Linked DNA regions of Homo sapiens. The protein of the gene in region 3 interacts with the protein of the main gene of each other region in a biochemical or structural test. Each region holds a gene or a part of one and is shown on either strand. Other genes may lie near its edges.

What was found. Proteins that work in one complex are often made in the same cells at the same time.
Region 1: the proteins of LNX2 (region 3) and KCNJ4 interact in a test that uses a peptide from one of them, tested with the Homo sapiens proteins (one large-scale study listed by IntAct).
Region 2: the proteins of LNX2 (region 3) and DGKH interact in a test that uses a peptide from one of them, tested with the Homo sapiens proteins (one large-scale study listed by IntAct).
Region 4: the proteins of LNX2 (region 3) and CRHR1 interact in a test that uses a peptide from one of them, tested with the Homo sapiens proteins (one large-scale study listed by IntAct).

What each region holds. Positions count from the first base shown.
Region 1 is NC_000022.11:38,425,827-38,428,513, reverse strand, and holds the end of KCNJ4 (inward rectifier potassium channel 4), read left to right. Parts: intron 1-342; 5' UTR 343-381; coding exon 382-1,719; 3' UTR 1,720-2,187; downstream 2,188-2,687. UniProt on the Homo sapiens protein: Inward rectifier potassium channels are characterized by a greater tendency to allow potassium to flow into the cell rather than out of it.
Region 2 is NC_000013.11:42,240,648-42,243,396, reverse strand, and holds the end of DGKH (diacylglycerol kinase eta), read right to left. Parts: 3' UTR 501-2,749; downstream 1-500.
Region 3 is NC_000013.11:27,561,530-27,565,029, reverse strand, and holds part of LNX2 (ligand of Numb protein X 2), read left to right. Parts: intron 1-2,248; coding exon 2,249-2,617; intron 2,618-3,500.
Region 4 is NC_000017.11:45,783,012-45,787,119, forward strand, and holds the start of CRHR1 (corticotropin-releasing factor receptor 1 isoform 2 precursor), read left to right. Parts: upstream 1-1,308; 5' UTR 1,309-1,533; coding exon 1,534-1,566; intron 1,567-4,108.

The sequences.
Region 1 (2,687 bases), on a different chromosome or scaffold from region 3:
ACAGGGAGGAACCAAGATGGGCATCAGGAAGCTTCCAGAACAGTGAGCATAGGAGGGCCGGAGGGGCAGTGTTGAGGGGCAGGGACTAGGACCTGGATCCTTGTGGCTTTAGCTTCCTGGTCTATGGACCCCAGTCTCTAAGCTGGGCCGGACTGGGTGGCACTGGCTCAGACCCTGTCATCAGAGCCACCTCTGCTGCCACCCTCCGCCTGCCGGGGCAGAGGAAGTCTTAGGTCCTGGTCCAGGCTCACCTGCTTCTGAGAGTCTTGGGGCTGAGTCTGAGTGGCCCCGAGGGAGCCCCTCGCTCCCCAGCATCTCACCTGTCCGGCTTCTCCTCCGCAGGCCCTGCGTCTTCCCAGGTGACCACGCCGGCTTCAGGACATGCACGGACACAGCCGCAACGGCCAGGCCCACGTGCCCCGGCGGAAGCGCCGCAACCGCTTCGTCAAGAAGAACGGCCAATGCAACGTGTACTTCGCCAACCTGAGCAACAAGTCGCAGCGCTACATGGCGGACATCTTCACCACCTGCGTGGACACGCGCTGGCGCTACATGCTCATGATCTTCTCCGCGGCCTTCCTTGTCTCCTGGCTCTTTTTCGGCCTCCTCTTCTGGTGTATCGCCTTCTTCCACGGTGACCTGGAGGCCAGCCCAGGGGTGCCTGCGGCGGGGGGCCCGGCGGCGGGTGGTGGCGGAGCAGCCCCGGTGGCCCCCAAGCCCTGCATCATGCACGTGAACGGCTTCCTGGGTGCCTTCCTGTTCTCGGTGGAGACGCAGACGACCATCGGCTATGGGTTCCGGTGCGTGACAGAGGAGTGCCCGCTGGCAGTCATCGCTGTGGTGGTCCAGTCCATCGTGGGCTGCGTCATCGACTCCTTCATGATTGGCACCATCATGGCCAAGATGGCGCGGCCCAAGAAGCGGGCGCAGACGTTGCTGTTCAGCCACCACGCGGTCATTTCGGTGCGCGACGGCAAGCTCTGCCTCATGTGGCGCGTGGGCAACCTGCGCAAGAGCCACATTGTGGAGGCCCACGTGCGGGCCCAGCTCATCAAGCCCTACATGACCCAGGAGGGCGAGTACCTGCCCCTGGACCAGCGGGACCTCAACGTGGGCTATGACATCGGCCTGGACCGCATCTTCCTGGTGTCGCCCATCATCATTGTCCACGAGATCGACGAGGACAGCCCGCTTTATGGCATGGGCAAGGAGGAGCTGGAGTCGGAGGACTTTGAGATCGTGGTCATCCTGGAGGGCATGGTGGAGGCCACGGCCATGACCACCCAGGCCCGCAGCTCCTACCTGGCCAGCGAGATCCTGTGGGGCCACCGCTTTGAGCCTGTGGTCTTCGAGGAGAAGAGCCACTACAAGGTGGACTACTCACGTTTTCACAAGACCTACGAGGTGGCCGGCACGCCCTGCTGCTCGGCCCGGGAGCTGCAGGAGAGTAAGATCACCGTGCTGCCCGCCCCACCGCCCCCTCCCAGTGCCTTCTGCTACGAGAACGAGCTGGCCCTTATGAGCCAGGAGGAAGAGGAGATGGAGGAGGAGGCAGCTGCGGCGGCCGCGGTGGCCGCAGGCCTGGGCCTGGAGGCGGGTTCCAAGGAGGAGGCGGGCATCATCCGGATGCTGGAGTTCGGCAGCCACCTGGACCTGGAGCGCATGCAGGCTTCCCTCCCGCTGGACAACATCTCCTACCGCAGGGAGTCTGCCATCTGACCTCCAGGCCCGGCCCTCACCACTGCCCACAAGAGCCTCTGCCGGGGGTGGGATGCCAGGACACCCCCTCCCACACTCAGGACAGAGCCAACCCTGGCTCCGTGGACCTTCTGGAGGAAGGTGGGGGTTTCAAAGACTGGGGGACCCCTTCCTCCTGACTCCAGCACCCAGGCCTGGGAAGAGCTCGGCCCCGATCAGCCTGAGTTCCGCCAGCGCCTACTTCTGGTGGCTCTAGGTCCCCGGATCCACCACCCTTCCCCCACTGACTCTTCAAGGACGTGCCCTCTTTGCTCTCAGAACCTTGGGGAAGGTGGCTGGACTGCTGGGCGGGGGACATCTCGGGGTTTCAGGGTGGGCAGGGGGTTAGTTTGGGGAGGGGGGGGTGCGTTTCTTTTGCATGACTGTGGCCTGTTGCTCATGACTTTCTTTTGTAAATATCTATAAATGGAGACAGATGGAGACACCAAATTCACTTTCTGCCGTTTTTACCTGCTGGACAGGGAGATGCAGTCCCTCTCTGTGCACCCCTCCCCACCCAGCCCATCAAGCCTAGCGCCTTCCCCTGCCCAGCTGGCTGGCCCCTTGAGGCCCTCAACGCCAGCCACCTTGGCCCTTGGATGGTGTTGGGTTTGGGTGCAGAGGAGGGACTCTGAGGGGTGGGATGAGGGACCATCCCTCCCTCCCTGCAGTCCCTCCAGCCCCGGGCCCAGCCCAGATTGACAACAGAGTTTGTAACCATATATATATATATATATATATATTTTTTTTTTATTTTTTATTATTATTTTTTTTTCTTGAGACGGAGTTTTGCTCTTGTTGCCCATGCTGGAGTGCAATGGAGCAATCTCGGCTCACTGCAACCTCCGCTTCCCAGGTTCGAGCGATTCTCCTGCCTCAGCCTCCTGAGTAGCTGAGATTACAGGCATGAGCCACCATACTCAGCTAAGTTTTGTATTTTTAGTAAAGAT
Region 2 (2,749 bases), about 15 Mb from region 3:
TTATGTTCTTACAATCAAGAATTCCTTCACCAGATGCGAGACTACTCAGCAATAAGAAGAAATGAACTATCAATACACACAATTTAGATGAATCTCCAGGGAATTATTCTAAAGTGAAAAAAAATCGCATACTGTATGATTCCATTTATGTAATATTCTTGAAATGATAAAAGTATAGAAGTGGTTGCCCGGGGTTAAGAAGTGTGTGAGGGCAAGAGGGAAGTAGGTATGCCTATAAAAGGGAAACATGAGGGATCTGTATTACGGGTCCTTGTGGTGATAGAACTGTTCAGCATTGTGACCTTATGCATCTCAATGTCCTGGTTGTGATACTGTACTACAGCTTTGCAAGATGTTACCTTTGGAGGGGAAATGGGTAAAGGGTACACGAGCTCTCTCTGCATTATTTTTTACAACTGCATGTGAATCTACAATTGTCTCAAAATTAAAAGTTTAATTTTAAAAAAGATTTCCCACCAGAAACAACGTAGACTTCACACTTTCTTCAAATGCATTCTTTTTATTTGAGAAGGATGATCTCAAGGCAGTGCCCTTTGGGAAAGATGTCTTTCATCATCATGTACATCAGGATCAACCATTACTTTCAGCAAAGTACAAAAATACACACGTCAGTGACTTCCGTACAATAAATACATAATCATGCATCCCACAATAAAAGGCACCGAAAACTGGTCACTTAGTAGTCATAAAAATTACTAGCTACATTAACAAAGCCACCAAAATTATCTGTACAAGGAAATGTAACAATATATTCCAAAGGTGAAAACACATAAAACATCTTTAAAATAGTAGGCAATAAATATCTCAATTGTATATATTTTTAAAATTATGCCATTGTAAACAGCATGTAAACAAACAAAACTCACGTTGTCTTACCATTACTAAAAGTAATTAGAGCCAAAGTTATAACCTCTGCTCTGTCAGGTATATTTCACTGGCAAGTGTGCTAAGCAGTTAAAAGTTTCACTCTTTTCTGCAGCAAACAGAGCCCACTGTGTAATAAATAGATAGATATTATCTGCATCTTTCAGACACAAGTGCTTAGTTTCAAAACAGACTACCAAAATGTAGTAAATTCCTAACTATAAATAATACGGCAAGGCTAAATTTAAAATACCTTTTCCAATGTAAGGGACAAAAGGAACTATACTGTTGTGTTTTCAACATGATAATAAACAAGAGGCAAATGATTTCTGGTTATCTTTATCGAAAGATAAAATGAATGTGCTGAATGTCAGGGTAAAGTGTCCAATCTTTTGAGCCTCCTCCTTTTGTGGACCTTGTACAAAGTCAAACAAAGAGTAAAGCTGTATCACACTAAGAATTTTCTTTTGCTAGAGAACATAGAAATGGATGATACTTAATACTGATGGAAAACAATGACTTCAAAATATGCCTATCAAACTGTGAATACACATACAAGTCGGGTTTTTTTCCACACTTACTGACAATAAAGATACAGTTTTTTCCTTCTCATGAAGGAACCCTATTGCCTAACCATCCATAAATATCTAGAGAATTTTTTAGAACTAAAAATATTTTTGTTTCACCTATGTATTAGTGCCTCATGGCACACAAGTACTAGTAATATTTACTATATGCTTAGATACGTATGCTACCTGTTAAATATTACCGCCTACTCCTCATTCAAAATAATCAAGGAAACATCAACGCACATCTTCAAATGGAGCCTCTGAAGTATACCAGAAAGCATTACTTTTTCCCTTCTACTGTGGGTTTACCATGCACAGCTCTTATATATTTTGGTGTGTGTGTCATCAAAAGGCATATATGCCTTCCCAAAATAAACTTTAAATGTGAGTTCACATTCTACAGATCTATCAGTCACTGGGATCACATGTACGGCTGTGGAAATAGGATTGATGAAATATGTACTTGACAAAACAGTCAAAATTATTGGTGGCTGATACAAAAATGTAAAAATTGTGGACATAAAAATGGGATTACCTCTTTATGATAAAATAATTTGGTTAGTTTTTTTGGGTGGAAGGAGACTCCTCTCTGAAGTAACCTGAAAAACACTCGGTTTATAAAAGTCCTCCTAATACCTTAAACAGACTGTGGAAAAATAACTGTGAAAACAAACTTGGACTCTACCAGATGGGAGCTTTGTCTTATTTTATCTGTATCCCCAGAATCTAATTGAGTGCCAAGTATAGAGCAGGTAGAAAAGTCTATCAAGTGAATGAAGGAACAGGGCATTTCAGTTAATTACAATTATTTTGATTTTTTTTCTTTTTTTTGAGACAGAGTCTCACTCTGTCGCCCAGGCTGGAGTGCAGTGGTGCAATCTCAGCTCACTGCAACCTCCGCCTCCTGGGTTCAAGCAATTCTCCTGCCTCAGCCTCCCGAGTAGCTGGGATTACAGGTGTGCATCACCATGCCTGGCTAGTTTTTGTATTTTTAGCAGAGATGAGGTTTCACCATGTTGACTTGTCTCGAGCTCCTGACCTCAGGTAATCCACCCACTTCGGCCTCCCAAAGTGCTGGGATTACAGGTGTCAGCCACCACACCTGGCCCTGATATTTAATTTTAGAAATTATTAACTTGGAAAAGCTTTCTGTGTTAGCCTTTATGAGTATTTGGTGATATGGTAGAAAGGCTTTATCTAATCCCAAAGAAAAACAGGCCCAGAGGTAATAGTTTTTATTTTTAGTCTTTATATTCTATAGAGGGTGATAAGAGTCACAAGCCTTCTTATGTTTA
Region 3 (3,500 bases):
TTCAAATTGATAAGAAAAGTCTGAGCACATAATCTGATTAATGAATTCACAAAGGGTCTCTCCTATTATAGGCCCTGACTTCTGGTTGGCTTTTAACTGGTGTGTTGGAGCCAAGTAAAGCCACCCCCCTTTCCCACATATGGACTATTTATGGTTATTCAAGAGTAAACACTTGGAAAGAGGCCTATTGGTATTTTTTACTATCTGGTTACCTCCAACTTTGTATAAGCTAAATAAATATAACACAGTGAGCCAATTTGAAAATCTCGAAGAGGCAGTAAGATGGTTGATTTGCAGACCAGAGAGCTAGCTTGCATTTTCATTTTTGCAGACCATATACATAAGCAGTGTGTGGCTTTGGTGGTTTTCCCACATTTATATATATTTATTTACATATACAAATGTTATTAAATAGCCTCTTTGAAAAGGAGAACCATATGCTGTTAGAGCTTTTTGCTACTCTTAGAGTTTCATATGCAGCCTCTTTGAGCAGTTTTGAAGAAAAAAAAATACTGCTATTATAAATTACCTCAATATCATTAATAAAAGTAATATAACTTAGAACATTATTAAGAATAAGTATTTTCAGTTTAATGAAGTCATCAATAATGGCATTTTCAGTTCTGAAGGAAAATAATTACAGCTGTTGATTGATAAAAAAATACATTTAGCTCAAAAATGAGATAGTTTGCTATGCTGATGTTATTTTTACAAAATCTAGAAACAATATTTTATTTGGTTTCTGCTTTCTCTGAATTTCACTGGCAACCATGCATTCCTGGAGGAAAAATCTTTTTCCAGTTGTAGAATATTCCCCAGCCTGCTTCACAAAGATGTTATGAGGCTGCATGTTTACACATGGCTGGATTTTAGCCAGACGTTTTGTAAAGTCATTTGTGATATGTGTGATATGTCTGAATATAAGACAGAAAAATGTGAACCTACAGGTAGGTAGCTTTGTAGCTAAATAGTTGGAAATGGTGGTTTGACTAATGAATCTATATCTGCGTGGATTTTTAGAAGCTGCTTTCTAAATATAATAGAACTTCAGAAGTTCCATTCTTGACCCTGTATTATTCAATACTTTTACCAAGGACTTGGATGACTACCAAATTAATAGATGTTGCAGACTTGGGAGAAAGCAAGTTTGTGTGTGACATCTGTGCATTTGGTGACTGAATTCTGAAAGGTGTTAATAGGTCAAAATCAACAAAATTCAAAATAGTATTTACAACTATCAATCCTAAGTCAATAGGAAGAGGAAAGTCTTGCCTAATGTGGATTTGTGTGAAAAAGATGTAAGAATTTTAGGTGATCATAAACACCTAACTCAGAGCCTGTCATATAACAGATGGTCAGAGGATGTTGGTTTCATCTCAGACCGATTCAGAGAAGAACTCTAATTGTGATAAATGCTAAGAATCATGCTCATCTCTTGTAACTAAAGAAATAATTGAAGTTAGGTGTATTTTCTAAGTGCTGTTACATACCCAAGGATCAGTCACTATACTTTTTTTGAGATTATAAAGGTGAATACATAAATGTTATATGAGTATTGAATAATGCATTAGATATACATTATATTTTACTTTTAATGGTAAAAACCGTAATTACTTTTGCACCAACCTAATATTTCTGTGCTGAAGAATTAGAGTGAAATTACAATTAACCTGGTTTTCTTTCAGGTAAAAGTCACTTATCTAAAATAAGTTTGTATACCTGAAATGTGCTACTTTCCTTAAAATAACAATTTATTTTCTCTAGCTTAAGTGTATTTAATTTGGAAGAAGCAAATTTGTAATCTAGTAAAACTTAAATTTCTGTTCCACTAGAATTAGTATTTATTTCATTAGCACTTGCCCCATGTTAATCTGTTCATTCTCATACTGATCCCATGAAGTAAACACATTTTACAGATGAGGAGACTCATTCAGACAAGTTCTATAATTTGCCTAAGTTATCAGTTAGTAAATGGTAGTACCTAGGACTCTAATTCAAGACCGTCATTAAAGCCCGTGATCCTAGCTACTATTCTCTCCTTGATGCTAGTCACTGTAAGTTAATATTAGAAACTCTGTTTTTAAATGTCTTTAATGTGGTTTTCTTTGTAAATAATGATTGTATAGCATTCTCACCATACTTAGCACTCTCACAATACTTAGTTTCCTGTGGAAATGTCACATAAACATTCCTACAAATTGGAAAAATAAAAGGTTGTCACACTTCGGTCACAATTCTTTTTTTCTAGGTCAACAACTACAATATCAGCAATGTGTCCCATAACTATGCCCGAGCTGTCCTTTCCCAGCCCTGCAACACACTGCATCTTACTGTGCTTCGAGAGAGGCGCTTTGGCAACCGAGCACACAACCATTCTGATAGTAACTCTCCACGAGAAGAGATTTTCCAAGTGGCTCTTCATAAACGGGACTCTGGTGAACAGCTTGGCATTAAATTGGTGCGAAGGACAGATGAGCCAGGGGTTTTTATTCTTGACCTGTTGGAAGGGGGGTTGGCTGCCCAGGACGGCAGGCTAAGCAGCAATGACCGAGTGCTGGCCATCAATGGGCACGACCTGAAGTATGGAACTCCGGAGCTTGCTGCCCAGATTATTCAGGTAAACCCTCTTGGCCTTCATTCCAAAGGCTTGGCCGAAATGATCATATAGTAGTATTTGTTTTCACTGGCCAATAACATCAGAATTCAGGGGACATTTTATATTTCATTAGAAAATCGGGTGTGGCTACCTGAATTCTTTAAAATCCACACTAGTATAACTTCATTGGAGATAGTCTTTTCTAAAAACTATATCCCTGTGAATTTTGGGGATGGTTATTTACAGAGCGTAGGCTCTACTGTTTCACATTCATTTCTCATTTGGGTCCTGGGTTCTACTATTAAGCCAGATGTAGCAGATGATATGTCCACCTTTTAGAAGTGAGGAAAGGGAGGCTCAAAAGAGCTGTGATTACCAAGGATCTGACTTACCTGGTCTCTTAACTCCCTGTCAGGATCTATATAAATAGAGGAAGAATAACTCTTATCTCTATAGTGCTTTGTTGTTGTTTCTAAGGAATTCACAGTGTTTAAAATACATGATAAAATTTGTCCTCATAGCATCTTTGTGACATAAGTAAGGATAGTCATTATTAGAGAAAGAACATGTTTTTCATAAAAGCATGAAGATGGATAAGTTGGAAAGTCATCCAGAGGAGATCTATACATTCTGCAACATGCCATAGCATTTAATGATATGAGCAACTTCTACAGTGATAAGGGTGCAACAAAAAGATGTTTTTCTTAAAGTTAGCAAAACAAAACACTGTAAAGGAAACCAAGAATTATGTAATTGAGGATCAGGAAGTAGGGTAGGCCGATAGTCATTGAAGAATGTGTTTACAACACAGAATCAAATAACAATGAAAATTTAAGACTATAAGAAAATTCAAGTCTCAACTCTCTTTATTGTATTGAGAGGAGATTCTGATATTGGTCTAATT
Region 4 (4,108 bases), on a different chromosome or scaffold from region 3:
GAGAAGAGGGCAGGAGGGAGGAGTAGGGTGGGCACGGCAGGGCACAGGGTGCAGGGCAGGTGGGTTCAGTTTGATTTCAAAGCCGACTGCCCGCCGCCCCAGGTGCTCTGGTGTACCCAATAGGGGCTGCATTGGCCAGGCGGCCTAGGCTCTGCGGGTGGAGTGAAGATTTCTCTACCTCCCAGTTTCTCCCTTTTCAGCTCTGGTAGGAGAGAGGAAGAGTGAAGAGGAAGTCAAAAGTTCTGTTCATCTGGAAGGGCTGGGAGTTGCTTCCTGGGATGGGGAGCTCCGAAGCCAATTCAGAAGACGGCCCCGGGGTCTGGCGGGGAGGCCCACCGCTGCCCAGAGGGCTCGGCCGGCCGGGAGGGGGCGCTGTGTCCTCCCCACGCCCTGCCCGCGGGCTCCTAGCAGCGTTCGCCGCGCTGCAACGCAATGCGCGCCCGGCTTTCCCCTGGGCAGCGTTCAGTGCCCGCTTGTCCTGCAGGGCACCGCCGTCTCCCTTTCATCCTGGGGCTCCCAGGTCCAAAGGGTTCCCAGATCCAGCCTCTTGCCTGAACCAAAGTGGCCAGGCACTCAGTTTGTAAGATGAACAAATGAAGGAAAGAAGGAACGAATGAATAAGGGCTCATCTTGCAGAGCGTTCGCGTCTCAGCGCGCACCAGGCACATCAGTGCCAAAGGTGCTGGGGGTCGGGCCCAGCGCCCGGCGCGGCTGGAATGGGGGCGGCGAGGAGCTCCTCCTAGCCAGCCGCAGGGCGGGAACTGCCCAAACGCAGGTCGCAGCCTCACTGGGTTCCGCGGCGGCTCCGCTCAGTAGGGACCGCCCTGTTCCCTAGCCCCCAATAGCCTCGCCCTCATAAATTCACCTGAGCACCCTGGCCCAAGTCACCCCAGATCCCTGGGACTTCCCAGGCCCCGACCTCGGCCGGGCGGGAGGCTGATCCTTTACCGCGGCCCCCTTCCCCCATTCCCGGCTTCTCCCCGGGCTGCGGCGGCCGCCACTGCTGCCAGCGCGCCCCGAGGACTGCCGCAAACCCCGGGCGCAGGGAAAGGGGATCCTGGCGGCGGGACACAGAGAGCGGGCCGGGGGAAGGGGAGGGAACGGAGGAGGCGAGGAGGAGCTGGGAGGGAGCCGAGGGGCGAGGCGCGGAGGAGGGACCGAAGGGGAGCGGAGGGGAGAGGGAGGGGGAGGAAGGGGAGGGGACGAGCTGGGCGAGGGGGCGGGGAGCCGAGGCGAGGAGCGGCGCGGACCGTGGGGGAGGTGGCGGGGGCGAGGCCGGCAAGAGGCGGCCGCGGGCCGGGCTGCGTCGGGAAACGGCGGCCAGACTTCCCCGGGAAGGGGCGAGCGAGAGCCGGGCCGGGCCGGGCCGGGCCGCGGGGCCGGGAAGCGCCGAGCCGGGCATCTCCTCACCAGGCAGCGACCGAGGAGCCCGGCCGCCCACCCCGTGCCGCCCGAGCCCGCAGCCGCCCGCCGGTCCCTCTGGGATGTCCGTAGGACCCGGGCATTCAGGACGGTAGCCGAGCGAGCCCGAGGATGGGAGGGCACCCGCAGCTCCGTCTCGTCAAGGTAACAGCCCGCCGGCCATCCCTCGAGCGCTGGCGCCCCCGGCCCCTGGCGGACGCGGGACGGGGCTGGGCTGTGGGTGTGATGGGGGCGGGGGCGCTGGGAGAGCCGTGCTTAGGTCGGGGAAGGCTGGGCTCCGGGGCAGCCTAACTCTCTGGACCTTTGGAGCCAGGGTTGGGTAGGCAGGGGGAGACTCAGGTGAGAAAAGAAATCGTGGCGAAGCCGCCGGGATGTTGGCGGAGGAGGGGGTCCGCCCACCCGGGTAGCCGGCTCCGCGCCAAGAATCGCTCTAGGCTCTCGGGCAGACGCCTAGGGGAGGGGAGGTTCCACCTCCCACGCCCTTCCTGCAGACCTCGGCCCCGGGACTGGAGACTCTGAAGCGGGGTTCCCACCTCGCCCCAGCGCCCCCAAACAGCTCCCCGACTCCGCACGCCCCCGCCCTAGTCTTGGGAGCGCGTCCTGCCCCTTCCCCTCCGCGGCGAGCTGCGAGTCCGGAGAGATGAATGCCGCCCGCGCCTGCGAGCCCTTGATCAATATCGCAGTCTCGGGGGAGGAGACGGTGCCTCTGGCGGCAGTTCCTGTTCCCCGACCGCGGCTGGGAGCGCGACGCTCGTTCTCCGAGCCTGGGCACCCGCGATCCCCGCGCTGCGCGGCCGACCCTGCGACGCGGATCGGGCGCTGGAGTTTAGGAAAGTAGCCAGACCGCACGTCCAGCGTCTGCCCGCTGAAGTTCGTGGGCGGTGGGGGCGGCCCGCGGGTTGTGTGAGCCAGGGAAGGGCCGGGAGGCCGGCAGTCCGGCCCGCCGCTCGTGTCAGGCGTCACTTGCAGCCCCAAGCGCTTTCCAGAGCGTTTTGGTTTTGCAGGGTATAGGCGCGCCCGCTGCAGCCGGCCGGAGAGGCGGGTGGGCCTCTGCGCTGCTGCCGGGACACCCCGCTTCGCGCCAGTCTGGGCATCGCCTCACCCGGGGCTCGGGACTCCGCAGGGTCCGCTCCAGCCACAAACATAGACACCAGCTTGACCCGGCTCAGGGCATTCAGAGCGATTACATTCAAGAGACTTCGGTGGATTTGGGGGAGGGGTGCGGATTGGCGGAATTTCATTTTTCCATCAGTTATTAAACCAACTGTACGTATACCGGCTTACCAAGTGGTTTGAGTTAAACCACCAAGATTTTTAAATGCAGCAGCTGCTGCTTCCTTAGTTGAGACGTTACAAGTTACTGAGATTTTTCTCTAATCCTGCCCCTCCCCAAATATTTATAAATTGATTCTTAAAATGATCAAGGGTTGGTCTTACTGAACCCACATCCCCTCCCCCATCCGTTACCTGAGGGCTAGGGATGAACTCAGATTATTTTCTGGGCGTTCGAGGAGACAGACAGGTGAGGAAGGTAGAAGAAAAACATCCAGAGAGGTCGAGTAGTTGGCACTGAATGGGAATAGTTTCCAAAAGGCTCGCGTGTACCGAAGCCTGGTCTAAATGCACAAACCAGTTAGACCAAATTCAGTCTTTTAAATGGATTCAAAGAACTGAACTGCGGGTGTTTTCTTTTCTTTTTTTTTTTTTCAGGTTTACGCGGAAATAGATCAATGTTCTTTTTCTGGCCTTTCATAGAATTGTGTGCAAATCTCTGTTTAGAATGATCATGTTTTCCTTAAAAAAGTCTTTTTATTTCCTTTGTTCCTACTAGATGGTGGGGTGTTTGCCCTTTATGCCTGGCCTAATAAACTCAGTAGGCATTCAATAAATTCCAGATGAATGTGGGGCAGTGAGTGAATGGCCAGCGAATGCTGGTTTCAAACGTTGGTTACAATTAAATAGTTGCTTTTCTTCTTTTATTTATGTAGCATGTACAATTCACTGGGCATTATTCTACCTGCTTTGCAAATATTAAGTCATTTAGTCCTCCTAACAGCCCTAGGAAGTAGGAATTATTCCTGAGACACAGAGAGGCTAAGTAACTGGTTCAAGGTCACACAGCCAGTGAGTAGTGAAGTCAGAATTCAAACCCAGACACTCTGATAAAAGGCTTTGTTTTGTTTGCTTTTACCAGAAAATATCCTTTTTTTTTTTTTTTTTTTTCAAGACAGGGTCCCACTCTGTCGCCCAGGTTGGAGTGTAATGGTGTGATCATGGCTCACTGAAGCCTCAACCTCCCTAGGCTCTGGTGATCCTCCCACCCCAGCCTCCAGAATAGCTGGGACCACAGGCATGCACCACCACACCCAGCTAATCTTTGTATTTTTTGTAGAGATGGGGTTTCCCCATATTGCCCTGGCTGGTCTCAAACTCCTGGGCTCAAGCGATCAGCCAGCCTCGGCCTCCCAAAGTGCTAGGATTACAGGCATGAGCCACCATGCCCGGCCATTACCAGAAAATATTCGAAGCCACCTAAATCTCACTCTAGAGCTCAGCCAGATGAGAGCTCAGGTAGTTTTGTCAGCATGAGAGTACAAATCTAGGGGATTTAGGGTTAATCCCAAATCCAGCTCCATCCCCAACAAGTCAGCCAGTGTTGGGAAAGGGTCCACTCTGGGGCCTATAT